Linked DNA regions of Homo sapiens. The protein of the gene in region 1 purifies or fractionates together with the protein of each later gene. This does not show direct contact. Each region holds a gene or a part of one and is shown in the gene's direction. Other genes may lie near its edges. The genes, in order: CANX, METTL9, EDEM1 and GXYLT1.

Region 1 (7,486 bases):
ATTAATTAATTACAAAACTAGTAATTAATAGTTTTTCCTGCCTAATGCATTATTTTGAAAGAAACTGGTTACTCATTTTCCTGACTCTAAATAACTTGTAGATTTTGCAGAACAAATTTACTGGAAATCTGCATTAATGTTCAATTTAATTTTATTTATTTTTGTGGCATTTGATAACTATTCAAAAACAATAGAAGATGGAATCCTTTGTAAGGGTAAACATTTGACCTATGATAAAACGTGACTAAGATGAGGGAGAGAGGAAATACATTAAGAGAGTTTCGATCTTTCAAAATGCCATACAGTTTTCTGCTTTTCTCTCTGATATTAGGTATGAGGTTAATTTCCAAAATGGAATAGAATGTGGTGGTGCCTATGTGAAACTGCTTTCTAAAACACCAGAACTCAACCTGGTATGTAATTCCCATTTCTGGAATGTGGCTGGACACCCACTATTACCTTGTAAGAATTTTGTAATTGGGCCGGGTGCAGTGGCTCACGCCTGTAATCCTAGCTCCCAGCACTTTGGGAAGCCAAGGCAGGCGGATCACGAGGTCAGGAGATTGAGACTATCTGGCTAACATGGTGAAACCCCATCTCTACTAAAAATACAAAAAATTAGCCAGGCGTGGTGGCAGGCGCCTGTAGTCCCAGCCACTTGGGAGGCTGAGGCAGGAGAATGGCATGAACCTGGGAGGCGGAACTTGCAGTGAGCCGAGATTGCGCCACTGCACTCCAGCCTGGGCGACAGAGCGAGACTCCATCTCAAAAAAAAAAAAAAGAGAATTTTGTAATAATTGTGAAAATAAAGGCTTCCTCCCCTGCTGTTTAACTCTTTTGATGAGTTGGGAAAATTGACTTTGACGCTAACGTGCTTTTTATTTGAAGTGTAAATTACAAAGTTGTTACCAACTGTTTTTATCTGAATTTCTGGTTTTGCTTCTGTGTAAGTTTTAGTTTTGGCAAGCTTATTTCTTTGTTTTATGAGGAAGCAATAACTGTCTAGATGTGTGCATTACTTTTTTTTAGACACTTAAACGTTATTTTAAATTTACTGATGATTGCTGGTTATTCCTTTTTACTAAACAAACTTGTAGTTAGCTTTTCCTTTAACTGTCACTAATATATTTGGAATTTTATAAGAGGAATTATCATACACTTTTGAAACGTTGCTTTTGAACACTTTGAGTACAGTGACTTCAAATAATCCTTTTTTGTTTTTGAAGGATCAGTTCCATGACAAGACCCCTTATACGATTATGTTTGGTCCAGATAAATGTGGAGAGGACTATAAACTGCACTTCATCTTCCGACACAAAAACCCCAAAACGGGTATCTATGAAGAAAAACATGCTAAGAGGCCAGATGCAGATCTGAAGACCTATTTTACTGATAAGAAAACACATCTTTACACACTAAGTAAGAAAAAGCATTAGTTTGGGGGCTTATGGTATTACATATATATCATCCATTTAATTTAAAGATTGTATATCTGGCCGGGCACTGTGGCTCACGCCTGTAATCCCAGCACTTTGGGAGGCCGAGATGGGCAGATCACCTGAGATCAGGAATTCGAGAACAGTCTGGCCAAAATGTTGAAACTTCACCTCTACTAAAAATACAAATATTAGCTAGGCATGGTGGTGCACGCCTGTAACCGAAGCTAGTTGGGAGGCTGAGGCAGGAGAATTGCTTGAACCTGGGAGGGAGCCAAGATCATTGTGCCACAGCATTCCAGCCTGGGCGAAAGTGAGACTCAATCTCAAAAAAAAAAAAAAAGGCTGGGCGCGGTGGCTCACACCTGTAATCCCAGCACTTTGGGAGGCCGAGGCGGGTGGATCACAAGGTCAGGAGATCGAGACCATCCTGGCTAACATGGTGAAACCCCGTCTCTACTAAAAATACAAAAATATTAGCCGGGCGTGGTGGTGGGCACCTGTAGTCGCAGCTACTTGGGAGGCTGAGGCAGGAGAATGGCACGAACCCGGGAGGCAGAGCTTGCAGTGAGCCGAGATCGCGCCACTGCACTCCAGCCTAGGAGACAGAGCAAGACTCCATCTCAAAAAAAAAAAAAAAAGATTGTATATCTGGAGAGTACCCCAGCCTCCAAACAAGAAGAATCTCAGCCTGGTATGGTTGCTCATGCGTGTAATCCCAGCACTTTGGGAGGCTGAGGCGGGCGGATCACTTGAGATCAGGCATTCGAGACTAGCATGGCCAACATGGTAAAACCCCGTCTCTACTAAAAATACAAAAATTAGCTGGGCGTGGTGTTGAGTAGCTGGTGTAATCCTAGCTACTCGGGAGGCTGAGGCAGCAGAATTACGTTAACCCAGGAGGCAGAGGTTGCAGTTGAGTCAAGATTGTATCACTGCACTCCAGCCTGGGTGGCAGAGGAAGATTCTGTACCCCCTCCACGAAAGAAAAGAATCTCTTCACTTTAGTATCTTAGTTGGGAAATGACCTTAATTTGTCAGCATTAAAAGAAGCTTCTTGGCCACGTATGGTGGCCCACACCTGTAATCCTAACACTTCGGGAGGCTGAATCGGATGGATTGCTTGAGTCCAGGAGTTCCAAACCAGCCTGACAACATAGTCAGACCCTGTCTCTACAAAATCTTAAGAATTAACTGAGTATAGTGGCATGTGCCTGTAGTTTCAGCTACTCAGGAGGCTGAGGTATGAGGATTGCTTGAGCCCAGGAAGTCGAGACTGTAGTGAGCCATGATCTTGCCACTGCACTGTAGCCTGGGTGACAAAGTGAGATGCTGTCTCAAAAAACAAAACAAAAAACCCAAAAAACTTCTTTTCCACAGGAACTGAGGTTCGAGATAATTTTAAGAATAGAATAGGTGTTTTTGGCCAGGCATGGTGGCTCGTGCCTATAATCCCAGCACTTTGGGTGGCCGAGGTGGGCGGATCACCTGAGGTCAGGAGTTTAAGACCAGCCTGGCCAACATGGTGAAGCCCCATCTCTACTAAAAATACAAAAATTAGCCGGGCATGGTGGAGGGTGCCTGTAATCCCAGCTACTCAGGAGGCTGAGGCAGGAGAATTGCTTGAACCCTGGAAGCGGAGGTTGCAGTGAGCCAGATTGTGACACTGCACTCCAGCCTGGGCGACAGGAAGACTCTGTCTCAAAAAAAAAAAAAAAAAAATTGGTATTTTTTGCTGGACATGGTGGCTCATGCCTGTAATCCCAGCACGATGGGAGGCTGAGGCGAGCAGATCACTTGAGGTCAGGTGTTCAAGACCAGCCTGGCCAACATGGTGAAACGTCATCTCTACTGAAAATACAAAAATTAGCCGGGTGGGGTGGTGGGCGCCTATAATCTCAGATACTCAGGAGGCTGAGGCAGGAGAATCACTTGAACCCGGGAGGCGGAGGTCACGGTGAGCCAAGGTCATGCCATTGCACTCCAGCCTGGGCAACACAGTGAGACTCCGTCCCCCACTCCAAAAAAAAAGGTGTTTTTTTTTTTTTTTTCTACAAAGAGCTTTGCTGATCTAATTTCTTCCTTTTTTTTGTTGTTGTTGTTGAGAAATGTTGAATAATAGAATAAGTTATATTTATAATTATACATAAATCCAATAAAAATAGTTTTTCAGAAGTATCTTGTAGTTGAACTTATTTGGATGCTCCAATACCTGGACAATTGACAATTGAGTTGAATCATTTTGATACAGGGTTTTTTTTGGTTTGTTTGTTTATTGAAGCTTTTCCTGCTAGTTTGAGATCATAAATAGGCATGCCTCTTTCTGAAGAATATAATAACCTTTTTTTTTTTTGAGATGGAGTTTCACTCTTGTTCCCCAGGCTGGAGTGCAATTGTGTGATCTTGGCTCACCACAACCTCTGCCTCTTGCATTCAAGCGATTCTCCTGCCTTGGCCTCCCAAGTAGCTGGGATTACAGGCATGTGCCACCACGCCTGGCTAATTTTTTTTTTTTTTTTTTTAGTAGAGATGGGTTTTCTCCATGTTGGTCAGGCTGGTCTCAAACTCCCGACGTCAGGTGATCTGCCCGCCTCAGCCTCCCAAACTGCTGGGTTATAGGCGTGAGCCACCGCGCCTGGACTACCTTTTTAATTTTTTTGAGGCGGAGTATTGCTCTGTCACCCAGGTGGGCGTGCAGTGGCGTGATCTTGGCCTACTGTGACGTCTGCCTCCCGGGTTCAAGCGATTCTCTTGCCACAGCCTCCTGAGTAGCTGGGATTACAGGCTTGTGCCACCATGCCCAGCTAATTTTTCTTTTTTTTATTATTATTATTTTTTTTTTTTTCCAGCTAATTTTTCTGTTTTTAGTAGAGACCGGGTTTCACCATGTTGGCCAGGCTGGTCTCGAACTCCTGACCTCAAGTGATCTGCCCGCCTCAGCTCCTGAAAGTGCTGGGATTACAGGTGTGAGTCACTGTACCCAGCCTAGAATATAACAACCTTTTTTTCTTTTTTTTGTGACGGAGTCTTGCTTTGTCATCCAGGCTGGAGTGCAGTGGCGCCATCTTGGCTCACTGCAGCCTCCGCTTCCCAGGTTCCAGTGATTCTCCCGTCTCAGCCTCCCCAGTAGCTGGGATTACAGGCACACACCACCATGTCCAACTAATTTTTGTATTTTTAGTAGAGCCTTGTTGGCCAGGCTGATCTCAAACTCTTGGCCATCTGTTGATCCGCCCACCTCGGCCTCCCAAAGTGCTAGGATTACAGGCGTGAGCCACTGAGCCCAGCTTAACCTTTTTTTGTTATTTCCAAAAGTAATACATATTTAAGGTATAGAAATTCAGAAGCCATAAGTAAGCAAAAAGAAAACACTTAAAGCGAGGGAGAGGGGTTGAAGACAAGTTGGTTAATTGGTACAGAAATAAGGTAGAAGGAATAAATTCTAATATTTGATAGTACAGTAGGGAAATTATAGTTAGAACAATTTATGGTGTATTTCAGAAGAGCTGGAAGAGAATTGTACTGTTCCCAATACAAAGAAAAAGTAAATGGAGCCAGGTGCAGTGGCTCAGGCCTATAATCCCTGCGCTTTTGGGAGGCTGAGGTGGGAGGATCACTTGAGGCCAGGAGTTCTAGACCAGCCCGGGCAGCATAGTGAGACCTTGTTCCTACAAAAAAATAATTATTCAGGCTTGGTAGCATGTACCTCTAGTCCCAGGTGCTCGGGAGGCTGTGGTATAAAAGGATCCCTTGAGTCCAGGATTCGAGATTGCAGTGAGCTATGATTGGGCCACTGCACTCCAGCGTGGGTCACAGAATGAGACTCTGTCTCTATAAAATAGAAAGAAAAGGTAAATGTTTAAGGTTACAGATATTTCAATTACTGTGATTTGTTTGTTTTGTTTTGTTTTGTTTTGTTCTTTTTGTTTTTTTGAGATGGGAGTCTCTCTCTGTTGCCCAGGCTGGAGTGCAGTGGCCTGATCTCAGCTCACTGCAACTTCTGCCTCCCGGGTTCAAGCGATTCTCCTGCCTCAGCCTCCTGAATAGTTGGGACTATAGGCATGCGCCACCATGCCCGGCCAATTTTTTTGTATGTTTAGTAGAGTTGGGGTTTCACCATGTTGGTCAGGCTGGTCTCGAACTCCCAACCTCAAATGATGGGCCTGCCTCAGCCTCCCAGAGTGCTGGGATTATAGGCATGAGCCACTGGGCCCGTCCAATGACTGTGATTTGGTCATTACACATTATATACATGTATCAAAATATCACACGTACCCCGAAAATATGTACAAGTACGATATGTCAATAAAAACATACACAAAGAAGTCACTTAAAATTATCTTAAACATCAGCATTGTGATATATATTTGTCAATATGTGTATATACACATATACAACTTTACATGCTATATCTAACTTTTTTATTTTTTTATTTATTTTTATTTTTTTTTTTGAGACGGAGTCTCGCTCTGTCTCCCAGACTGGAGTGCAGTGGTGCGATCTCCGCTCAGTGCAAACTCCGCCTCCCGGGTTCACGCCATTCTCCTGCCTCAGCCTCCCGAGTAGCTGGGACTACAGGTGCCCACCACCACGCTGGGCTAATTTTTTGTATTTTTGGTAGAGACGGGGTTTCACCGTGTTAGCCAGGATGGTCTCGATCTCCTGACCTCGTGATTCGCCCGTCTCGGCCTCCCAAAGTGCTGGGATTACAGGCGTGAGCCACTGCGCCCGGCCCTTTTTTATTTGAGACAGAAACACTGCAATCTCCACCTCCCAGGTTCAAGCGATTCTTGTGCCTTAGCCTCCCAAGTAGTTGGGTTTACAGGTGTGCACCAACATGCCCACCTAGTTTTTGTATTTTTAGTAGAGACAGGGTTTCACCATGTTGGCCAGGCTGGTCTCGAACTCCTGGCCTCAAGTGATCCACCTGCGTTAGCCTCCCAAAGTGCTGGGATTACAGGCATGAGCCACCACACCCGTTTCTTAACAACAAAAGAGTGTGAAGTTCTTCCTCACAGAAATATTCATTTTCATTATCACTGACACAGCAGCATAGGATTCCTTGTTTGGATGTGCTGTAACTCAGTCTCCTGTGTATTAGATATCTAGGTGTGGAATCTGGGCTTTAATATACATCACACTTAAGATGCTTTTATGGGGCCCATGTGGCTGGGCACGGTGGCTCACACCTGTAGTCTTAACACCTTGGGAGGCTGAGGTTGGGCAGATTGCCTGAGCTCAGGAGTTTGAGACCAGCCTGGGCAACATTGCAAAACCCCATCTCTACTTAAAATACAAAAAATTAGCTGGGCATGGTGGCACGGGGCCGTCTGTAGTTCCAGCTACTGCGGAGGCTGAGGCAGGAGAATCGCTTGAACCTGGGAGGCGGGCGTTGCAGTTAGCCGAGATCACACCACTGCACTCCAGCCTGGGAGACAAAGCGAGACTCTGTCTCAAAAAAATAAAATAAAATTTTAAAAAATGCTTTTATGGATTTAAAATTGTTTTTTCATTCTCCATGGGAGTTAAAAAGTAGAAAGTAGAATCATGAGTGGACATGCGTTTTAATAAATTGGAGGTTTGTGTAATTTCAGTAACGTAATAATACCAGCTCTATTAAAAATGAAGAAATGGACCTTTTGTACTGGGAAGTAGTTGTAAGTCCACGTATTTGTCTTCTCACTGGTGTATATGTGTAAGCCCAATAATTGTGTTAGTTTATGTAGTTTCTTGTTTTTTTTGTTTTTTTTTTTTAGTGTCTATAAGTCAAGTCTTTGGTGTTAAAGATTTTAACTATCATTTGCTGTAATTCTTAGAAAGCCGAGGGACTAATCATTTATGTTTCGTGCATAAGGAAATGGGCGTTAGCTTCCCCAAGACCCCAGGAGCCAGGCATTGTTCTTACCCCAAAGCCTCAGGTCAGACTTCTGCTGCTTCACGTTAGAAGTCATGATCTTTTGTATTATGGTAAAGGGAGCTTGGAAAATTAAGTACTTTTAATTCCATTTAATGTTTCTTTCAGTCTTGAATCCAGATAATAGTTTTGAAAT
Region 2 (7,486 bases), on another chromosome or scaffold:
CATGCATCTTTCCAGTCACTGTATAGCAGCAAACATTCTGTACCTTATGATTGTTTCCAGAGAGCAGCAGTACAGAACAGGTTTCCCTGCCACTTCCTGGACCAGTGGTCCCCAAACTGTTTTCTAGGGTCTGAGGAGGAAGTGCCTCAGGAACTGCTTCAGGCTGCAGAGAAAGGCCTAGAAGTGGGCTGGCCACAGCTCCTGGGCTCCCAACCTCATTCGAACAGCAGCAGCTCTCTTAGGATCTTATGTTATCTGTGAGTTCCACTTCATTTAAAGAAAGGGTTCTGCTGCTTAAAGGAGGGTTGAGAATCCCTGTCCTAGATAAACTAGAATTTCAGAGCTAGAAAACAAGTCCTAAATAGGGATTGCGCTTTATTTCCCAGAGTGATGCTTCCATGAGACTTGGCTGGACCTATAGTTGCTTTTCTGAGGGTTCTCTTCAATCTCCAGTTAAACTCCCCTCAGTCTCTTTTTTCAAAGGCATCACTATGGTTTTGAGTGTTTTCTAGGACCTTTAGAAATAATAGGACCCAGACAGTTGTAACCATATAAACTGACATAAGTACGAATCTACTTTAATGCATATTAACCGACATCACAAGGACCACTCTTTTCCCTCTTTTCTCTAGTGTCTCTTAAAAATCTGTTATACTAAAGCTCTTTTTTCCTGATCCATGGTTTAGTTCCATATTTGAAATCACTTTTTTTTCCTATTTGGTTTCTCTGCTACTGTGGTCTGGCTGTGTTAGCTTGTCATCTTTTTCAACTGATAAACATGTTTTCTGTTACTCCTTCCACTTTTCCTTCCTATTTTGACTTAAGTTCTTCACATTCATCTCTTACTTATTTCTTCTTCCTTCCCCTGTCATCCTTTCCACTTTCCACCTTTTATTTCCCTCCTCCCATGCTTTTTTGGGGCATTATTTGCAACTCCAAAGACAAATGGTATCTGGAGGCATTTTCTTATTTTATTAACTTTGTCTTCTAATCATAGAAATGACATAAAAGATAATATCTTTGCTGGGCACGGTGGCTCATGCCTGTAATCCCAGCACTTTGGAGGCAGAGGCGGGTGGATCACGAGGGCAGGAGATCGAGACCATCCTGGCTAACATGGTGAAACCCCTTCTCTACTAAAAATCCAAAAAATTAGTCAGGTGTGGTGGCGGGCGCCTGTAGTCCCAGCTACTCAGGAGGCTGAGGCAGGAGAATGGCATGAACCTGGGAGGCGGAGCTTGCAGTGAGCAGAGATCGTGCCACTGCACTCCAGTCTGGGCGACGGCAGAGCGAGACTCTGTCTCAAAAAAAAAAAGAAAAAAAAAATTAGGCCAGGCGCAGTGGCCCATGCCTGTAATCCCAGCACTTTGGGAGGCCGAGGCGGGTAGATCACCTGAGGTCAGGAGTTCGAGACCAACCTGGCCGACATGGTGAAACCCTGTCTCCACTAAAAATACAAAAAATAAGCCGGGTGTGGTGGTGCATGCCTGTAATCCCAGCTACTCAGGAGGCTGGGACAGGAGAATCGCTTGAACCCAGGAGGCGAAGGTTGCAGTGAGCCGAGATCATGCCACTGCACTCCAGCCTGAGTGACAGAGTGAGACCTTGTCTAAAAAAAAAAAAAATCTTAACCATGTAATAAGTGATTATGGTTGTTGGTGCTGAGTCACTATATTCACTTTGTGTGTGTATGTGAGGGGTGCTTAATTTGCATAGACACTTCCATTTTTGTCCTTTTTTTCTTTCAGGTTGCTAGGAAGAGGCTCAATGTTTGTGTTTTCACCAGATCAGTTTCAGAGACTGCTTAAAATTAATCCAGACTGGAAAACCCACAGACTTCTTGATTTAGGTGCTGGAGATGGAGAAGTCACAAAAATCATGAGCCCTCATTTTGAAGAAATCTATGCCACTGAGCTTTCTGAAACTATGATATGGCAGCTTCAGAAAAAGAAATACAGGTATAATTTTCTTGGTTTTAGATGCATTTCTTCTTGAAAGTATATTATTTAAAGGATATGAATAAAAAATGATCTTCCATGATTAGAAATTTAAAAAATCATCTCATACATAATTAACTGGAAATGTAGAGAAATAATCTTCTGGTAGCAGTATTTTTCTGGAGCGGAGGGGTTGGCACTATAGGTAAGAAAAGCACTAGCGAGAGACAACTTGGAAAAGGCAGATCAGAAGAAGGGACTTCTTCCCTAATCAGAATGTGGCATTCTCAAAAAAAATTTTTTTAAGTAGTGGTAAAATACACATAGCATAGAATTTACTGTTGTAACTATTTTTAAGTGTACAGTTCAGTGGTATTAAGTACATTTACATTGTTGCATAATCATCACCACTATTCATCTCCAGAAATTTTTGTCTTCCGAAACGGAAACTCTGTACCCAATAAACAATAACTCCCCATTTTTCCCTCCTCGTAACCCCTGACAACCACCATTCTACTTTGTCTATGAATTTGACTATTCTGGGTATTTCGTATAAGAGGAATTATATACATTAGCTCCTTGTGACTGGCTTATCGCATGTAGCATAATGTCTTCAAGGTTTACTCATGTTGTACCATGGGCCAAAATTTTCTTTTCTTTTCTTTTCTTTTTTTTTTTGAGATGGAGTCTTGCTCTGTCACCCAGGCTGGAGTGCAGTGGCACGATCTCGGCTCACTACAACCTCTACCTCTCAGGTTCAAGCAATTCTCCTGCCTCAGCCTCCCAAGTAGCTGGGATTACAGGCATATGCCACCATGCCTGGCTAATTTTTTTGTAGTTTTAGTAGGGATAGGGTTTCACTATTTGGCCAGGCTGGTCTCGAACTCCTGACCTCAAGTAATCCAAAGTGCTGGGATTACAGGTGTGAGCCACTGCGCCTGGCCCAAAATTTTCTTTAAGGATGAATGATAATTCGCTGTATGCATGTACCACATTTTGTTTACCCATTTATCTGTCAGTAGATATTTGGGTTGTTTCTACCATTTGGCTGTTGTGAATAATGCTGCTATGAACATGGGTGTACAGATACCGACTTGAGCCCCTACTTTTACTTCTTTTGGGTATAGACCCAGAAGTGGAGTTGCTGGATCACATGGCTAAGTCTGGGTTTAATTTTTTGAGGAATTGCAATACTTTTCCATTGCTGCTGCACCATTTTACATTCCCACCAGCAATGTAGTACAAGGGTTTCAGTTTCTCCACTCCTTGACAATACTTGCTATTTTCTGTTTTGTTTTGCTTTTAGTTTATAGTCATCAGTGTTAATCTTGGTTTTAAGGTCATCTGGAGTTTGAAAGACTAGGAAGAAGGGCCTTTTTTTTTTTTCTGGAGATGAAGTTTCACTTGCCCAAGCTGGAGTGCGGTGGCGTGATCTCAGCTCACTGAAACCTCCACCTCCTGGATTCAGGCAATTCTACTGCCTCAGCCTCCTGAGTAGCTGGGACTACAGGCACATGCCACTATGCCCGGCTAATTTTTTTTTTTTTTTTTTTTTTGTATTTTTAGTAGAGACAGGGTTTCACTATGTTGGCCAGGCTGGTCTCAAACTGCTGACCTCGTGATCTGCCTGCCTTGGCCTCCCAAAGTGTTGGGATTACAGGCGTGAGCCACTGCACCCGGCTGGAAGAAGGGTATTCTTATTTCAGTATGATTTATTGATTGGGAGATTTCTATATATTGGCTCAGTGCAGAATCAGGGAGGTAGAGCTGGAGTCAGCCTTTCTCTGTGATATTTTTGGAAGTCTGGTTAGCCTTAGAAAGAAAGGAGAAGAAATTATGTAATCACTCACTTTCCTATCCACATGTTTCTACTTTTACAGATTAATCCTAGAGATAGAGCATCAGTGTAGCTTTTGGAGCAGGACTGGTTTGAGCATTTGCAAAACATGGAGATTTTTAGCCTGGAGAAGGGAAGATTTCTGTGAACAGATACGCTGTGGGATTTTTATATGGAAGGAAAGGAATAGGTATAGTCTCTGGTGTAATCAGGCACAGCTACGCCTTAGAAGTTGAGTTACAGCTTAGGGAGATCGACCTTCCTAGCTTGAACTGTTTAAGTCCTTATCACTGTCAGTGTTTAAATTGCTGTTAGGGTTGTTATAGGAAGAGACATAAGGAAGGTGTGAGTTTGAACTGAGTGATTTGAAAGCCCCTTAGCTTTAGCAAGCTGTCTCAGATAAGGTTCTGGTGGGTCTGCATGGTGATAATTGACATGTTTTCCTTCAGTTAGAGATTAATTCGGCATTTCAAAACTTAGAATGCTTTGACCTTTGTTATAACAGTGGCTTAAGTCAGGCTGAATTCCTAATCTGATTCCACCTCCCCCCCTTAAAAAAATCCATGCTTTGAAGTGGGTCGAAGAGGAAGGTGTTAAACCCATCTTCAGATGATTGACCGCCCCAGCCTTCTTTTGCTTTGATGCTAAGTGCCTAAATGGAATTTTCAGGGAAACTTCAGATGTTTGAAATTAGTAATATATCTGGAGTGTACATGGTATGTAAAGATATCTACCACATAAAAAATACTTGGTTTAATTTTTTCCCTAATATACAGCACATAAGCCAAAAATCTGCAGTTTGACCTGCATGGGAAATTCATACTGATTGGCATTCCTTTCATAATATTAGTATGAAGTGAAAACATTTTCACAAAAGTGGTAAATTTTGTGACTATTGGTGCAGTTTGAGGTTTTAATGAGGAAGTAGTATCTTTATTTCCTAAGATTAGAGGTCACCCAATCCAAGATGGCAAGGCAGACTTTCAGCTGAATTTTACATTTTTTTCTTCCTTTTGAGATTAGAGCTATTTTCTATTTCTCTTCAATATCTGGGCCATGAAAAACAGGCTTTTTATTAATTTATATATATATATTTTTAGAGACGGGTCTCTCTCTGTCACCTGGGCTAGAGCATGTGGCGTGATTATAGCTCACTGTAGCCTTGAACTTCCGGGCTCAAGTGATCCTCTCACCTCAGCCTCCTCAGTAGCTGGGACTACAGGTGCCTGCTACCATATCTGGCTAATTTGAGAGAGAGAGTGTGTGTGTGTGTGTGTGTGTGTGTTTTTGTGTGTTGTGTGTGTAGAGACAGGAGTTTCATTATGTTGACCAGGCCAGTCTTGAACTCCTGGCCTCAAACAGTCCTCCTGCCTTGGCTTCCCAGAGTGCTGAGATTACAGGCATGAGCAAAACACACCTTTTTAAATAAAGGTTCTGTAATTTTTTTTTTTTTTGAGACAAAGTCTCGCTCCATCACCAGGCTGGAGTGCAGTGGCACAATCTCAGCTCACTGCAACCTCTACCTCCCAGGTTCAAGTGATTAGCCTGCCTCAGCCTCCCAAGTAGCTGGGATTACAGGCGCATGCCGCCACACCCAGCTAAATTTTTTGTATTTTAGCAGAGATAAGGTTTCACTGTGTTGCCCAGGCTGGTCTCGAACTCCTGAACTCAGGCAATCCGCCCGCCTTGGCCTCCCAAAGTGCTGGGATTATAGGTGTGAGTCACTGCGCCCAGCCAAAGTTTCTGCATTTCAAAAATAGGTCAATAAACAGAAAATGGCCAGGTTTTTCCTTTGTATTCGCAAGTTGTCATTGTTTATGCCAGAAAACCCAATTGTAAAACTAAAGGATGTGGTTTTGATTTTTACAGCAAGACAGTTTTCTTTATATTGTTAGTGTTTCATTTTTTATTTAGGAATTATCAAAATACAGATTGCTTATTTCCTAAGTTTAGAGCTCTCCCAACCCGAGATGGCAAGGCATCTTTTTTTTTGGGAGACGGAATCTCTCCCTGTTGCCCAGGCTGGAGTGCAGTGGTGCCATCTCGGCTTACTGTGCAGCCTCCGCCTCAGCCTCCCGAGTAGCTGGGACTACAGGCGCATGCTGCCACGCCCAGCTAAGTTTTTGTATTTTAGTAGAGATGGGGTTTCACTGTGTTGCCCAGCTGGTCTTGAACTCCTGAGCTCAGGCAATCTGCCCGCTTTGGCCTCCCAAAGTGCTAGGATTATAGGTGTGAGCCACCATGCCTGGCCTTTTTTTTTTTTTTTTTTTTTGAGACAGGATCTTGCTTTGTCGTCCAGGCTGGAGTGCAGTGACACAATCATAGCTCACTGTAACCTCAAACTCTTGTGTTCAAGCCATCCTCCTGCCTCAGCTGCCCAAGTAGCTTAGCTAGGACTACAGGTGTGTGCCACCATCCTTGGCTATTTTTAATTTTTTATAGAGATGGGGTCTTGTTGTGTTGCCCCAGCTGGTCTCAAACTCCTAGGCTCAAGCGATCCTCCCAAAGTGCTGGAATTACAGATGTTAGCTACTGCACCTGACTGCTTTATCATTCTCTAAGGAGAAATATATTTTACATCCTTCTGGAAGTATTAACTCATTTTCTTGAAAATAATAATCACTTGAATAGATACCCTCATTCTAGGTTTAGAAATACTGTTTTAGAAAAAGGAAAATTCTGACAACTTGTTAGGATTCCTGGGCTAATACGCAGTTTTAGTGGGGCTAAGCAATTTGTCTTCATCAGTGGAACTGAGTGAGTTTACAAATAAAAATCACAAAACAGAAGTAAGAATGCACTTGAGCTTCTATAGGTATAGATTTAACTGTCTTAGTGTTAGTCACCTTTTTGTGTTATGAGCATATATTTCTCTTCCAAAATTACCAACACAGAGGCTACCTATCTGAAACTCATTCTGAGGTAGGTTTAGTGAGATTATTCTAGATTAGAACATGCTGATGATGTTTGGCTTCTGCTTCATTGCAGATAGACATCAGATTTTTTTTGTTGTTTTGTTTTTAAAAATCAAATATATAATTTGTGTTTTACAATTTGTGTCTTTAAATTGGCTGCTTAGCTAAGGCGTTAATATATACAAATAGTCCTTTCTTTATTCATTTCCATTTTTTAGAATGGGAATTGATGACATTTTTGTTCTGAAAGTAGTCTTCTTAGTAATGTTTGGAAACTCTTGGAATGAGCTAAATTGAATTTCCAAAATTGCTATTACAGTTGACTTAGTACAACAAAGTGATTTTAAAGCCTGAATGCTCTACTTATTTCAAACAGTATTTAGTGCAATGAAACACCTGCACCAGTAAGGAATCTGACTAGTCCCTGGAAGTTTGTTAGGCTGCTATTTGGAAGAGGCTTTAGTTTGACAAAAATATAGATTGAAAAGAAAATGCAGCTAAGTGCTTTGTGTTTTTAAAATTCTGCTATTCAGAAATGCTCTAAATATCATTATGCTAATGAGGTTTTCAAAACAACCCTCATTATACTTTTAGAATTTTCTGAGCTATCTTACTGTATCTGCTCAACATTACTAAAGACTTGTTTACCAAAGATCCTTTTTTTATGTTTCCTTTTTTACCTGTCTCTATCATAACATATCTCACCTACCACATTCTGATTGGTATAACCAAGCAGGAGTAAGTAATTTGTAAAATTGCCTAATTGTGTGGCTAACAAAGACTCTTGATATAAAAAC
Region 3 (7,486 bases), on another chromosome or scaffold:
CTCAAGCGATCCACCTGCCTCGGCTTCCCAAAGTGCTGGGATTGTAAGTGTGAGCCATCATGCCTGGCCACTTTTTCTTTTTAAAATCATCTTTTTTTGGATAAATTCCCAGGAATGGCAGTACTGGGTTAAAGTCTGTGAAAAACTCTTGGGTTTTGAAATGCATCGTCAATCTGGAAAAGCAAAATGAGAAACCTATTTTTATTTTGCATTAAATGTTTATCCCCATGTTTGTGTCAGTAAATGCTATATATTTAGAAGATGTCTAGGCTAAGTTAGTGATAAGACTGATAAAAATGTTAGGTCCAAGCAACCACCTCCTTCTCCTGTATGCCAAGGATAAAGGTGCTGAGGAGCAGTGTGGTTGGAGTAGGAGGCCTGTCTCCATTCATGTCCTCCCCGATGAGACAGCTGGGACCTCAAGTGCCTTGTTTATTTTTGCAGGCAATGTCGTGAACATTCAGACGGGCCACTGGGTTGGAAAGCAGAGTGGCCTGGGTGCCGGGCTGGACTCCTTCTATGAATACCTCTTGAAATCTTACATTCTCTTTGGAGAAAAAGAAGACCTAGAAATGTTTAATGCTGCATATCAGAGTATTCAGAACTACTTAAGAAGAGGGTATGTCTCCCTAACATCTCCTCTGTTGCCTTGTAAAGCAAATAGAATGCATTCTGAAGCGTTTGTATTTTTTTTAACACACAATCACAGGGTCTGTTTATCTCTGCCCTCACCTTACCACCTCTCCTAGTTTGTCAGTCATCTGGGGGCAAAGAGCTGTGTTATCTTTCTGTCGCTGCATAGCATAGTACCCCAGAACCTAGTGGCTTAAAACAACAAGCATTATCTCATGAAGTTTCTTAGGGACAGTAATCCAGGAGCAGCTGAGCCAGTCATTCTGGCCCAGGATCTCTCCTGAGGTTGTTGTCAAGCTGGTGGCCAGGGCCACAGCCATGCTAAGGCCCAATGGTGCTGGGAGATCCCCTTCCAGGCTCACTTTGGTTGCTGGCAGTCTTCAGTTCCTCTTTGGCTGTTGGCTGGAGGGCTCAGTTCTTTGCCAAGGGGCCTCTTTGTAGGTAGCTTATGGCCACTGGCTTCCCCCAGAGTGAGTGATCTGAGAGAAAAAGAAAGAGGCCAAAATGGCAACCACAGTGCTTTCATGACTAGTCTGGGAATGATATACCAATACTTCTGCCAGACCATTAGTCACCCAGATCAAAATGATACATTCAGTGTGGGAGGGGGCTGTGCAAGCGTGTGGCTCGCACGGATGGAGGTTCTCGGGGGCCGTCTTAGAGACTTGCTGCTACTACAGGGGCTGACACATCCCAGTGTTTAACTGTGGCTTTAATTGCAGATAGATCTGCAATGCAGGACAATGTTTTGGTTCTAATACTTTACAAAGAACTGTTAGGATTGGTTTTTATACTTGGTGATAGAAAGGACAGTTACCACATTTTTTTTTCTCTCTGAGTTTGTTTAAAACATTATTCACCATTTTCTGTTGTTCCTCCAGGATGACAGGAGAGAGAGAGCCATTTGAAGCTACAGTGGCTTCTACGTAGTGTCACTCTCTTTCCCAGATCTTTCTTTTTTTTTTTTTTTGAGTCAGAGTCTTGCTCTGTCACCCAGGCTGGAGTACAGTGGTACGATCTTGGCTCACTGCAACCTCTGCCTCCTGCGTTCAAGCGATTCTCCTGCCTCAGCCTCCTGAGTAGCTGGGATCACAGCCGTGCACCACCTTGCCTGGCTGATTTTTGTATTTTTAGTAGAGATGGGGTTTCACCATGTTGGTCAGGCTGGTCTCAAACTCCTGACCTCGTGATCCACCCGCCTCGGCCTCCCAAAGTGCTGGGATTACAGGTGTGAGCCACCACACCTGGCCCCCAGATCTTTCTTTGTATGTATTTCTATGTTAAGTGTCCAGTTTCAGTGCAAGTTATAGCTACTGAGCTTCCTGCTTGGATTTTCTTGGGTCCATTTCTACATTGCTGTTGTAGGAACCACTTGTATGTGCTATGTTTAAGTAAGGGGCCTTTTGAGTGGAATTTATTTATTTTTGCTTTTCAAAGCCACAAACTAAATTGAGCAGTAATCCCCAAGGGTCTTGCTCTGATGCATTTCTCCAGGCCCATGCTGTAGGACATTACTAGAGAAGAGACTCTTTGTACCAAAAGAACCAAGCTTTTCTGCTCAGGTGAAATCCAGCATAGGCCCATACTATATACTGAATTCTCTTATGTGGCAGGGCTCTTAAACCCAAAGCTCAAAGTGCTTTCTGCAGAATACTGTGAAATCCTGACATATTACAATGGCTGCGTTAGGAACTTTGATCCTGTGGAAAATATTATCTTCTGCTAGAGTCTAATGTAGATAATTAAAGGCAGTCTGTCTGCAGAGGTTTAAGGAATGAGTTAGGAGAAAAAATTAATGTTAATTCCGTTTAAATGAAACTACCAGCAGCTGCTGGAGAGGTAGAGATCTGTCAGTGAGCTTTCTTTTCACCACTGAATGTGCTGCTTGGGTTTGCAGGCGGGAAGCCTGCAATGAAGGAGAAGGAGACCCTCCACTCTATGTCAACGTGAACATGTTCAGTGGGCAGCTGATGAACACCTGGATTGACTCTCTGCAGGCCTTTTTCCCTGGACTGCAGGTATTTTGCCATCAGATTTCCTAAGAATAACCAATCACCAGAAAGGGCTTCTCCCTCCTTTTCTTTCTTTTTTAATACCCTGAGCATTCTCTGTCTCCTTTGGATTTGGGAGGTCACTGACACTATACGTCTTCATCTCTCTGTTTGAGAAATTAGTCTCCAGAATATTGAACAGAGCCATTCCACACAAGTGCAAAACCGTGCTTGAGAAGTGACTGTGTGTGATTTTTGTTTTTGTTTGTTTTTGTTTTGAGATGAAGTCTTCCTCTGTTGCTCAGGCTGGAGTGCAGTGGCGCAATCTTGGCTCACTGCAACCTCCGCCTCCTGGGTTCAAGAGATTCTCCTGCCTCAGCCTCCAGGGTAGCTGGGATTACAGGCGCCTGCCACCACATCCGGCTAATTTTTTGTACTTTTAGTAGAGACGGGGTTTCACTGTGTTGTCCAGGCTGGTCTCGAACTCCAGGCCTTAGGTGATCTGCCCGCCTCAGCCTCTCAAAGTGCTGGGATTACTGGCATGAGGCACTGTGCTGGGCTGTGTGAGATTTTTGGATAATCCATCGCTCAGTTGTTTATTCCTTGTTCATGAGTACACGTAATCTCTTTTTCTGTGTGCAGCTCACATCAATTTGGCATTAGTGGCCAGATAGGGAGGGCATTTATTTGTCTGGGTTGTCACTTTTGGGTTGGTTTTGTCTTTAACCGTATGTGTAGGTCAACTAAGAACTCGGGGGCAGAGGAGAGCCCAGGCAGGCCCTTTGTGCCATGTCTTGTCACTCTAGGAATGGTATCTCAGCCTGATGACCTGTGTCCTCTCCTTAGGTGCTGATAGGAGATGTGGAAGATGCCATCTGCCTTCATGCCTTCTACTATGCCATATGGAAACGATATGGTGCCCTCCCTGAGAGATATAACTGGCAGCTGCAGGCCCCTGACGTTCTCTTCTACCCACTGAGACCAGAGTTAGTGGAATCCACATATCTCCTCTACCAGGTACTAGAGTTGTGTTTTTTTTTTTTTCCTTTCACTGCCTCCCCTGACCCCAGCAGTTCATTCTTAATGAACATTTGCTGAGTGATTTAGGGTTATGTTGTTTCATAGTGACTCTGATTGAGTTACCCCCTATCCGTAGTCTTGTTAGTGTTCAGTGTCATTCGTAACTTCACAGGACAGAGAAGGCATCTGCAGTCAAATATGTTTTTAACCTAATATTCTACAAAGCTGAATCATGTTTTTACCGTAGGACTTATAACTCACATCTTTAAGTATTCATGAGGAAGATTTGGTACTAAGGTGTTTTCCAAATGTATGTGACCAGAAGACCCGTTTTTAGGATGCAATTCTGCATCAGTGTACTGTGGAGCCCCGGTCTGTGTAACAACTATTCAGACAAAAAGAAAATTCATTTTCTTGGTTGTAAAGGAAATCATCTTGGATTCATCTGGATGCCTGTTTTTGTTTAATGTTTGTGTTTGTGTGTGTGTGTGTGTATATATATATACACACACACACACACACATATATATGTAATAGTGTTCATCCTTTGTGAAATTACTTCAGTGGTAGAGGGAATGTGACTTTAACTGTGAAATGTCTTCTTCCTGACGGTTGAAGCCAGGTATTTATACTTCTGTGTATGCCATACATATATACACACTGAGAGTCCTCCTCCATCCACATGCACAGCAGCACGAGTGGTTAACTCACCAAGAAACTGGCCTTGGTGAAATTCAGTAGGCCGGTAACAGATGCCCACCGTGGGCCAGCCCTAGCAAGCAGGGCCTGAGTTTTAGAAACTCTGGTAGTGGGGAGTTTTAGAAACTCTGGTAGTGGAGCTAACACTAAGATTTGAATTTATTTATTCAACAATTTTTTTATACCAAATCCTTGCCGTTTGCTTCAGATGAAAAAAGGGGAAAGAAATCCTGTGAAACTGGTAGTAGTCCTCATGCCTAAAAAGGGACTTCATGAGTTTTAGGTAACCTCTCAAAAAAGGGAAAAGATAATAGCCACCTGTTTGGCCTTTCTGAGCCCAGTAGAAAGACTGTACACGGAGGATGGCGTGCCGGTTACTGGCTGATTTCTTCTCTTAAGCTTAGTCCTGTGGCCTGTGAGCTTACTCCTCTTTGTTTCTGTCACTGCTTCTTTCATGTTTTCCGTTTCTCCTTCACGTTGACAGAGATGTCTTGCACTCTTCAGCTTTACCCTCCGAAGCCACACCCTGTGCACTTTTAATCTGGAGACTGCTAACCTTGTTGTTTGTTGCTGCAATCTGGCACTAGGCATGAATTAAAGATCCCCAACTTTTAAACTGTTTGTTGGATAAAGGCTTATCTTCCCAGAGAAGTTTTTCTCTAGTAAAACCATCTAAGAGTATGTGTGAGAAGAGTAGGCAACTGAGGACTGATTTCTCAGGGTGATTAGAAAGGAAAGGGTGGCGGCCTCCTTTCATACTTCGGAAAGTCTTGTTCCCATCAGCCTTTCCTCATGGTGCCATAACTGGAATGGCGGCAAGGTCCTCTTTCCTGTGCCTGTGTCTTAAGTTTCTGGAGAGTTCTGAGGCAAGATAGAAATTGGATTTGTTCTCAGATATGGTGCTGTCAGCGTGGGCATTGTTTTGTTTCTAATCATGATGGCAACCAAAGTAGACTATTGTTCTACCCTGGAACAGATGGTCTTACCCCTGGCTAAAGTTAACCAAATCACAGGTACTCTTTGATGTGAACTGACGGAGTACCTTAGTCCTCTAACCATTGTGACCCTGCAAGATAAATGACCTGGGCCCTGTTTCTTCCTTTGGCTGGCGACTCGTCTCCATGGGGAAGCCCCGCAGTCACCATGATGTTTGTCGATGGCATGTCTTCCAAGCCCATGCTGGATCACATTCTCTCGTGTTCTCTCTAGGCAACCAAGAATCCCTTCTACCTCCATGTAGGAATGGATATTCTGCAGAGTCTGGAAAAGTACACAAAAGTCAAGTCAGTTTTCTAAGTTCCTACCTTTTTCTGTCAGCCACTTTTAATTTATTTCAAATTGTTTTGGGGAAATATCCTAGTTTGCATTTTAATTTATAGAACCAGGTCATTAATGTTACATTTACAGGGAAATTGCTTACCTTTTGGTGTAGTAGAACCTTTCCATTGTACTGAGAACTGCCCTTTCTTTTCCGTGAGGTTCTAGCAGATTATGGGTGTTCATTCTAACTTCTTTCCCCTAGTTATATAATAACATATACGCTAAAATGTTTAGGGAGTACAGAAAATATAAAGCAGTAGAATATTATCACTGTAATCTCCACATACAGAGAAAACTGTAGTCAGTATTGAAATGTATGTACTTATAATCTTTTAAATATTTTTATATATGATGTGTGTATATATGTATATATAAGAAACATACTCTATATTTCAATTTTGTGACATGCTTTTTTTTACCTGCTGTAAGTTTTTTTTTTTAAGTACTATCTTAAATAATAAGTCAATACTCAAATAATAAGTCAATTCTCAATAATAAGTCAATTCTACAAGTATTAGGACTAGAAATTTAAATTAGTCCTTTTACATTTGTTGCCGGTCATTTTCCTGGTGCCACGTTATGCTTCTGGCCAGCACCCCGCCACCACGCCCACACCCTCTAACTCACCTGATAATTTAGCAGCCAAAAGCACTTGCTAAGTAAATTTGCAAACAACCCAGGCTATAAAAAAGGAGAGCCCCTCAATGTAAACATAGTTTCATATGGTGTTGGATGACTGGTTGATTATTCTGATAAGAGAATGTTTCTGCTTCTTAAGTGAATCAGCAGGTGGGAAGGAAGAGAGGCAGGACTGACCAGATGATTGTTTTGTAGGTGTGGGTACGCCACGCTGCATCACGTCATTGACAAGTCCACAGAAGACCGGATGGAGAGCTTCTTTCTCAGTGAGACCTGTAAATATTTGTATCTGGTATGTGTGTTGCAAGATGAACCCAGGAATATTTAGTATTGCTTAGAGCAAGCATTCGCATAGTCTTCCATCTGACAGGTACTTACTGGCTAAAGCTATGTGCTGGACATTGTGCATTCCCAGGATGCAAACGCTGTCAGAACCAAAGGATATTACTATCTTCTTTCATGGTTTCCAACCTTGTTGAAAAGTCATTTGTCAAGTAAACCAAGAACTGAACTTATGATTACAAACTGTGGGAAATCCTGGTAACGATTGATACAGAACCAGTGTTAGTTCTGTATCTAACTACAGGTGGTCGGGGAAGACGCCTCTGAGGAAGAGAGCTGTGTTCATAATGGCTTCTCACTTCTCTTGATGTATGTGATCTTAGCCAAGACCTGCAGCTCAGCCTTGTCTCTGTCCATACACACATCCTCAGGCACATGAGTGAGTGAGTGTGTGTGTGTGTGTGTGTGTGTGTGTGTGTGTGTAGAGAGAGAGAATTTCTGGACCTGGACGAACCCTTTGGTATTACCTAATGTTCATATGTTCATCATTTCCCTCACAAGAACTACAGCCTACACAGAGGTCAGGCGACTTGCTCAAAGTATGGCGATGGCTGTGGCAGAGCTGAGGTGTGAACTGTGGTCCTGACTCCCTGTCTGGTGCTCTTTCCATCTCACCGCTCTGCCTCGTGCATACAGCCACTCTCGTGCCCCCTGCCACTTTCCTCAGTATGGCCACATAGAAACAGAGGGCAGGATTTCCAGGTTAGAAGATAGCATGGCAACTGAGAACTTGGGCAGAGGGTCAGAGATAGAAGCAGCTGTGATAAATTGTGTTTATCTAGTTCCGTGGTTCCTAGGCCTGGGGCTAGCTGGGTCCAAATCACCCTGGGGCCCTTGCTAAG
Region 4 (7,988 bases), on another chromosome or scaffold:
CATAAGCCACCACACCTGGCCTATGGGTGTTTTAATTCAAAATTTCGTCATGACTAAATTTCCCTACAAATCTAGCTTTATATTTTACTGACAATTTTTTTTGTTTGTTTGTTTTTGTTTTGAGATGGAGTCTCACTCTGTCAGCCAGGCTGGTATTCAGTGGTGTGATCTTGGCTCACTGCAACCTCCACCTCCTGGGCTCAAGTGATCCTCCCACTTCAGCCTCCCGAGTAGCTGGGACCACAGATGCACAGCACCATGCCCAGCTAATTCTTGCATTTTTTATAGAGACGGGTTTTCACCATGTTGCTCAGGCTCATCTTGAATTCCTGAGCTCAAGTGACCTTCCTGCCTTGGCCTCCCAAAGTGCTGCGATTACAGGCATGAGCCATTGCGCCTGGCCGTTACTATTTTTTAAAAATAATATATTCTGTTTTACTAATCGGTATGCAGGGTTCTTGAAGTTTGAACCAGGGAGAAATAGAGGGACATCCAGAGGATATTCCTCGTTCTCTTTCCCACCTAGCCCACTGTACACTTTCCCTACCTTGTAGATGGAAATGTCAGCGAAATTCTGGTATCATATAGGAGGTTAAGGCATCCTCATTAATTAGTTTTCCACCGCTTTTCTTTTTTCAGTTTAAATTATTTATTTATTTTTTAATCTTTCACTACTTCTTTTTCTACTCTTGTGGCCTGTAGCAACGTGTTTTTAAGAATGAAGAGCATCACTTTACTCTTTCATCCTTCCTCTGACTCTTTCCCTACAGTTACTGGTCTGAATGAACACATAAAATGAGATTTTTGTGCAAACTAAACATTATTTTCCAACTTTTCCTCCAGTCCAACAAAGTCTCTAGGAATTGGACTGTGGAAAATGGGGAAATATACTAGAAGCCCACTAGCGGAGAGAATGAATTTTACTTTTAGCCTGAGTTTCTGATTCTTTGTGCTCTGCTACTAATCTGACTTGCATTTCACTGATTGTAAATGTTGTTTTAGACTCTAAGATCAGTCTGAAAGATTTTCATATAACATTGGTTCCCTTTTTGCTTTCAATTTGAATTTGTACCACTCCATTTAGTGCTTATTTGTTCCTAGTGAGATAGCATGGCGTAATGGAAAAGAACAAGAAATAGAAATCTTAGAGGATTTCTATCTGAATTTTGGATCTTATTATTAACCATGTGGTAAATGAACATTTCTGAATTTCAGGCTGTTTGCTTTTTTTGGGGGGGGATTGTTTTTATTTTTAAATTTTTCTTGCTATCTGTGGTCACATCTCTATCAGGCTCGTTTTTTTTTGTTTTTTTTGTTTTTTTTGTTTTTTTTTTAGAATAGAATAACATCTCCTACTTCATAGGAATGCTATAAAGATTAAATTAAACTTTTTTTTTTTTTTTTTTTTTTTTTTTTTTGTAGAAAGAGGGGTCTCATTATATTACCCAAGCTGTTTTTGATCTCCTGGCCTCAAGCAATCCTCCCAGCTCCACCTCCCAAAGTGCGGGGATTACAGGTGTGAGCCACCGTGCCCAGCCAAGGATTAAATTCCATTATGCATAGACCTTTATAAAATGGAAGTCATGCAAAAAGGTTTTTTTTTTTTTCCTGCAAAAAGAGTTTTTGAATTTTACTCTGAAAAGGTGTAGAATTTAACTTTCTCCATGTCTTTTTTTTTAAGGAATCAAGTACTTAAGGTAGAAGTGTAAAGAAAATGCTGAGCAGGCCCCCAAATCTGCTCTAGACTGATTTAGAGAAGACATTTTAAAAAAATGAAAATGGGAGCCGGGCGCAGTGGCTCACGCTGTAATCCCAGCACTTCGGGGAGGCCGAGGTGGGTGGATCACGAGGTCAGGAGATAGAGACTATTCTGGCCAACATGGTGAAACCCCGTCTCTACTAAAAATACAAAAAATTAGCCGGGCCTGGTGGCACGCACGCGCTTGTAGTCCCAGCTACTCAGGAGGCTGAGGCAGGAGAATCACTTGAACCCGAGAAGCGGAGGTTGCAGTGAGCTGAGATTGTGCCACTGCACTCCAGCCTGGTGACAGAGCAAAACTCCATCTCAAAAAAAAAAAAAAAAAAAGAAAACGCCCATTAATTGAACGCCTATTATATATCCAGGATGTACTAAGAGCTATACGAAAAATCAAGATTAATCTTTTAAATATAAAATTATTGAGATGTGGCTTAATTCTGAATCAGAGAATTTTCCAGATCATGGAGATCTCTATCTCCTAAACAACAAATATTGATAATTTTAAATTACTTTTTCTCCACCTAAATTTACCTATTTGATACGATGAATGAAGGTCAACATGGATTAAAAATTTGGATATCAGTCTATCATTAGAGAATTAAGAGACTGGTATAGAGAGAAAAAAATAGATTTAGGAATACATACCTTCACGCAGTACATGGAAGAAACACCTAACTGTTGTGACATCAAATATGTTAAAGCGCTTTCATTAACTTAATTTTAGGAATATCAAAATGCAACGTGTAAATCCGGTTAATAATTAGAGGGGATGCCAGCATGCACACAGCTCCTCCAAGATAGCCAGTTAAGATGATGTGTGAGTAATAGAAAAATCATTTCTATTTTTGGAATGGTTTATATAATTTTTCAACAGAAAATTACAGGATTAGAAGGAACCTAAAAGGATGATATGGTCCAGTACCCTGACGTCAATAAATGAGTGGCTATTTTTCCTGATTTGCTCTTTTCATAAAATTGTTGCAGAAATGAAAACTGCTTGCCTTCTCTTTTTGCCATTCCATTATTTTAACCATCTGTGGGTCAAGGAGTTATTCTTAATTATTACTACGTTTAGTTTCTTTGTTGAAATAGAGAAGAGTTATAGTTAGTATCTTTTAAATTAAACATTTTTTGAGTACTAGCTCTTACTCTAGTTTCTTGGTACCATATCTTTCAGCTTTCTCTCAAAAGGTATTTTCATTCTTATCAATGCTTTTCCTATCATTCTGGATACTTCGTTAAGTTTATCTTCATTTCTCTAAGAAGTGTAAGGTGTAGTGGAAGTATTAATTTAGTATACTTGTGGTTTCTATTTGCCTGTTTTCCCTTTGAGAGCAGTACACTCCTTTTATTTCTGAATACTCTGCATCAGAGCCCCTTGTCTGGCATGTAGAATATGTTCAATAAATGTTTATTGAATGCATAAATGTATGTTCTCATTCTCTTTACACATCTTGATAGCATGCTAATGTTCATTTTTTATCAGGTAAAGCAAGAAGGGGAGGAAGTTGAACCTTAAATTTGTTTAGTGACTTTATCATGGTCACAGAACCACTACTTTTTTGGTATAGGGAGCCAAGGATCCAAATGGAGACTGCTACTATTTTGCGCAGCATTTCCCCACCTTGTATCTCATGGCCAAACTTTTCAACGCCCCAGATGCAATTTCAGCAGTTAAACGCATGATTTTTCCCCATGAATGTGTGTTCGTGTGTGTGTGTATTTTTAAGTATCCCTTCCCTCACTTTTTGGCACTGGTGCTGCTTTCTGCCTCCAATCTCTCCTCTCTCTGTTTCAGCCTCCACACTACAGCCAGAATCTGCTCTCTAAAATGCAATTGTGATCATGTTACTTCCCTATTTAAAAACCCTTCAATGGTTCACTAATGTCTTGCAGATTAAATTCAAACTCCTTGGTGTGCTAAACAAAGCACTCAAATATCTGGCCCCTTCTACGCGCTTATCGCTCATCATACCCTCTCTTGCATTCACTTAGCTGGTGGTATCAAACTTCTCAACAGTTCCCTACACAAGAGCCTGTTTATTGATCCTTCAGCCTGGAATTACTTCCCTTACCCGACTCAAGACTCTAGCGCCACCTTTGCTATGAAGTCTCTCTTGACCATACTCACAGATAGAACTGATTGTTCCTTTGTGTGTATGCCCACACCCTTACAGGCCTGGATCTTAAGTCTGTTATCACTGCGTTGCGCTTATTTACAAGTATCCGCTGTCCCACCCACGCTCCACTTAGGCCTCTTTATACCCCTAGGTACTCACACAGAGCTTGGCACAAGTGATGCTTTATAAATGGTCAATGAATGAACGTAGTGGAAACACAGAAGAAGAGGGAGAAGAACTGGGGAAGAAAGAAGCTCTGTGGAGAGAATACTAATTGTTTTGCACATGAAAATAATGAGTTGTGAGGGAGGTCAAAAAGGTCAAAGGGAAGAGCCCTGCCTTACAGGAACTCACTGTCTGCTGGGAGGCAAGAGGTAAGGTCCGCATACCAAACACACGAAGCAATGAGCTTATCGGGGTGAAAATGGCTCGTGCACATTATAGTATCACAGAAACTTAGAGGCTGGGGGAGGATGGAGAGGAAACTGGCCTAGTCAAGTGTCTTCTAAGTGTTAGGCGGTTTTCGAGCGTTAAACAGTTTAATCTTTACAACCACCCCATGATGAGGATAGTAGCTCCATTTTAGGGACGAAGAAACATGCTCAGAGAATTTAGGTTGCCCAATGTCACAAACTACCATGTGGAAGGACCATAATTAGAATTTAGGTCAACTGCCTCCAGAGCCCTGAGGCTTTCGCTCCCCCTCTCTCGGCGGTCGAGACCCACAGGGCTCCCATTCACCTGCGCGTCGGCCTGCGCTAGCTATAGCCCTCAGGCGCGCCGCGTTCCGCGCACTCACACCACCCTCTGCGCGCCAGCCCTGCGTCCCTCCCACGCGAACTGCGCCGGCGCGTCCAGCCCTCCCGCCCGGGGGAGGGGCGGGGTTGCGTCGCTGCCGCTGACCCTTGAGCGCGCGGCGGCAGAGGCGGTGTCCAGGCTTCCGGGCGGGTAGTCCTTCGGCTCCGGAGCCGCGACTGCGCTCGCCTAGGTGGTGGGCGGGGAGGGAAGGAAGGGAGCGGGCGCAAGGCGGCGGCGGCGGCTGCGGGTGAGGAACTTGTTGCGCCCGCGGCTGCGCGGTGCCCCTCCCTCCGCTCCAGTTCGTCGGGGCGGGCGCGGCGGCGGCGGCGAAGGAGGAGCGCGGCCGGGGCGATGCGGCGCTACCTGCGCGTCGTGGTGCTGTGTGTGGCCTGCGGCTTCTGCTCGCTCCTTTACGCTTTCAGCCAGCTCGCCGTGTCCCTGGAAGAAGGAACGGGCGGCGGTGGCGGGAAGCCGCAGGCCGCGGTGGCTTCCTGGCTCGCGGGCGGCGGACGCGGCGCCGTGAGAGGCGCCGGCGTCGCGGGCCCCGCAGCGCATCCCGGCGTGTCGGACAGGTACGGGCAGTTCCCGGTGTGGGGGACGCGGCGGGCGCGGGGCGCTGGGCGCGGGCTCGGCCTAGCCCGGGCTGCTCGCCGGTGGGTGCCGCGTCTCCCGCGTCTTTCCTCCTGTCTCTGACCCCTCACTCATTTCCCTCCTTCCCCTCCGGCCGGGGCTAAACCTGCGCTGCTCCCGCCTGAGAGTGTCCTACACTTTCTGTGTTTATCTTTTGACCCAGTCATGCGCCCTTTAAAGCAGTTAGAAATTAATTTTCAACTTTTTAAAAAGAGGGTTCTTTGAAAATAAGAGGTGTCCACAAAAGCCTTACTGCTGCCTGGCTAGTGAGAATTTCCTCTTGTTTCAGTGGAGTTCAAGTTGAGATATTTAAACATGAGGCTGGCGCCCTAGTTCAGTGTTTAAGGATTGTGTGTGTGTGTGTGAGTGTATATGTGTGTGTATTTTGTCCCTCATGCTGATTTTCCTGTGTTAACGCTTACACTTCTAAGTATTAGCCATGGTTAGTTAAATTTGGAAATGGCATTTGTGCGGGTTGTGAAATTTTCTTTTGGAAACACTCAGTTTATTAAGAAACTTAGAGCAAATTAAGAAAAATGAGCGATACTTGGCGTGCTCAAGTCTGTTGTTGGATGGGATGGAGTTACCTTTCTTGACAAATTGGTATTTAAAAAGCGACGTAATGACTTAGGACGTAATCACTGCCAGAGTGGGAATCAACATGAGATTTAAATAGAAAAAAAATGTTTCTGTCAACGCATTATGAATGCTTGAAATCTGAGCGTTTGCACTGCCTTGCAACATGGACACTTCCACCTTATGTATGGGCATCTCTCTGGGAATGACCTGAAGTGCTCCCTACCAAGACTTGGCAAATGCTGCTTTGATATAGAGAAGTATAGGGTTTGTCGGAAGAGGGAGTATAGATCAGTTGTGGGCTGTTGTTTAACATCATTTTGAGAGTCGATGGTCATTCCCAGAATGAAAGGGGAAAGTTTGGGCAGAGGAGCAGCGTGGAAAGCGGACTTGTCATGTTTTTACCCTGAGATTTGATTACAGTCAGGGTAATTCCTACATCAGGACCCTCAGTTGTCTGTCCTGGGAGAAAGCAGTCACTGAAGACTTGAATGAGCTCGTGAAAAATGACAGGTTGAAGCTAAACTGTTTATGGCCTAGTATGTTATTGTGAAGCATTTGCAATTATGGAAAAGGAATTATTTTTATATGGGGTAGAATTGTAAGGAAGCAACATTTTAATTAAATATTGAATGAAATTAGACTGATGTTAACATCACATTTTTAGTGCCTTGGTCTTAGATATTTTATTTTGTGACAGAAATTTACAAATTTTGTTTGCTTGACCAGCTAATTTTAATAAAATTATTTGAAATTTTCGAAAATAGCCTCAGTTTTAATAAACATCCAATATAATCATTACTGAAACGTTAAGTTTTATGTGTCAGGATTGAGTCAACCGAAATACTGTACTTTTTTAGGTCCTTTGAGTAGCATTACTCTTTATTTTAAATGAGGCGTACATCTAAGTTAGAACTATAGGTGTATTTATCTCTCTTTGTAAAAATGTGATGAAGAACAGCATGTCACCACATTTGCGCGCATAAGAAACCATTTGGGCAGGGGAACAACGTGGAAAAGTTGGATTGTGAAGTTTTACTCTATGGTTAGATTAAGATCACGCAAATTACTAAGACCTCAGGACTCTATTTTGTATATCGTCATTTATAACATCTTTATAGAAATGTCATAGAATTAAATCAACTTTTGGCAACGCTCGGTAGCTCACGCCTGTAATCCCAGAATTTGGGGAGGCTGAGTGGGGATGATTGATTGCTGGAGGCCAGGAGTTTGACACCAGCCTCGTCAACAACCCATCTTTACAAAAAATAAAAAAATTAAAAAAAAATTAACTGAATGTGGTGTTTCACACCTGTAATCCCAGCACTTTGGGAGGCTAAGGTGGGAGGATCACTTGAGCCCAGGAGTTCAAGGCTACAGTGAGCTATGATTGCACCAGTGTAATCCAACCTGGGTGACAGAGCAAGATCCTGTCTCAAAAAAAAAAAAAAAAATTAACTTTTTTGGCCACCATGAGATACGGTATAGAAATCCCTAACCTCTTCATGTATAAATCATTTGGCCAAGATCCAAAGCAAATCAGTGTTGGAGGAGGATTAGAAACTGTATCCTTGGAGTGTTATACAAGAGCTCTTTCTGTAAAGAAAGATAAGGGTCTAGTTTAGATAGTGGACTCAGTGGGCAATGGGGCTATGGGGCAAGCCAGCAGCTTCCTCTTTTCAGTAGTACTTAGGTATTATTGCATTTTTGCCTTTTTTGATAACATCTTACTTGAAAGATTATAACTATTTCTCTCTTTTTATTTTAAACACGGGATCTAGGTTTGTACCCAGTAAGTTCCATTGGTCAGATCTTATAAAAACTATTCATGGTATAGAATTTCATGACGACAAAAGACTTGGAGTCCTTGAAGTAAGAACTTTAAAATGAAAGGAACAGTTTTTCAGTGGAATCTCTTATCCGTTAGTGTATTCTGTTTGAAGCCATGATTTTAATAATCAGAAAATACATGGGTCTTGTAGTCAGATAAACCCGTGTTCTCAGTATTCTGGCTCTGGTTGCTGTGAGACTTTGCCTAAATTGTGTCACATGCCTGTGTTTTAATTTCCTCACCTGTAAAATGTAGATAATACTTAAATTTTTTT

What was found.
Region 2: the proteins of CANX (region 1) and METTL9 purify together in Homo sapiens (co-immunoprecipitation; 3 studies listed by BioGRID and IntAct, with this or other methods). This does not show direct contact.
Region 3: the proteins of CANX (region 1) and EDEM1 purify together in Homo sapiens (affinity purification with western blotting; 6 studies listed by BioGRID and IntAct, with this or other methods). This does not show direct contact.
Region 4: the proteins of CANX (region 1) and GXYLT1 purify together in Homo sapiens (affinity purification with mass spectrometry; 4 studies listed by BioGRID and IntAct, with this or other methods). This does not show direct contact.

Annotation. Positions count from the first base shown.
Region 1 is NC_000005.10:179,708,647-179,716,132, forward strand, and holds part of CANX (calnexin isoform d precursor), read left to right. Parts: intron 1-331; coding exon 332-413; intron 414-1,226; coding exon 1,227-1,419; intron 1,420-7,252; coding exon of another isoform or gene 7,253-7,354; intron 7,355-7,458; coding exon 7,459-7,486. UniProt on the Homo sapiens protein: Calcium-binding protein that interacts with newly synthesized monoglucosylated glycoproteins in the endoplasmic reticulum. It may act in assisting protein assembly and/or in the retention within the ER of unassembled protein subunits.
Region 2 is NC_000016.10:21,616,117-21,623,602, forward strand, and holds part of METTL9 (protein-L-histidine N-pros-methyltransferase isoform 1 precursor), read left to right. Parts: intron 1-1,748; coding exon 1,749-1,958; intron 1,959-7,486. UniProt on the Homo sapiens protein: Protein-histidine N-methyltransferase that specifically catalyzes 1-methylhistidine (pros-methylhistidine) methylation of target proteins.
Region 3 is NC_000003.12:5,204,623-5,212,108, forward strand, and holds part of EDEM1 (ER degradation-enhancing alpha-mannosidase-like protein 1), read left to right. Parts: intron 1-444; coding exon 445-619; intron 620-2,530; coding exon 2,531-2,651; intron 2,652-3,470; coding exon 3,471-3,641; intron 3,642-5,552; coding exon 5,553-5,626; intron 5,627-6,497; coding exon 6,498-6,594; intron 6,595-7,486. UniProt on the Homo sapiens protein: Extracts misfolded glycoproteins, but not glycoproteins undergoing productive folding, from the calnexin cycle.
Region 4 is NC_000012.12:42,141,687-42,149,674, reverse strand, and holds the start of GXYLT1 (glucoside xylosyltransferase 1), read left to right. Parts: upstream 1-4,800; 5' UTR 4,801-5,028; coding exon 5,029-5,249; intron 5,250-7,988. UniProt on the Homo sapiens protein: Glycosyltransferase which elongates the O-linked glucose attached to EGF-like repeats in the extracellular domain of Notch proteins by catalyzing the addition of xylose.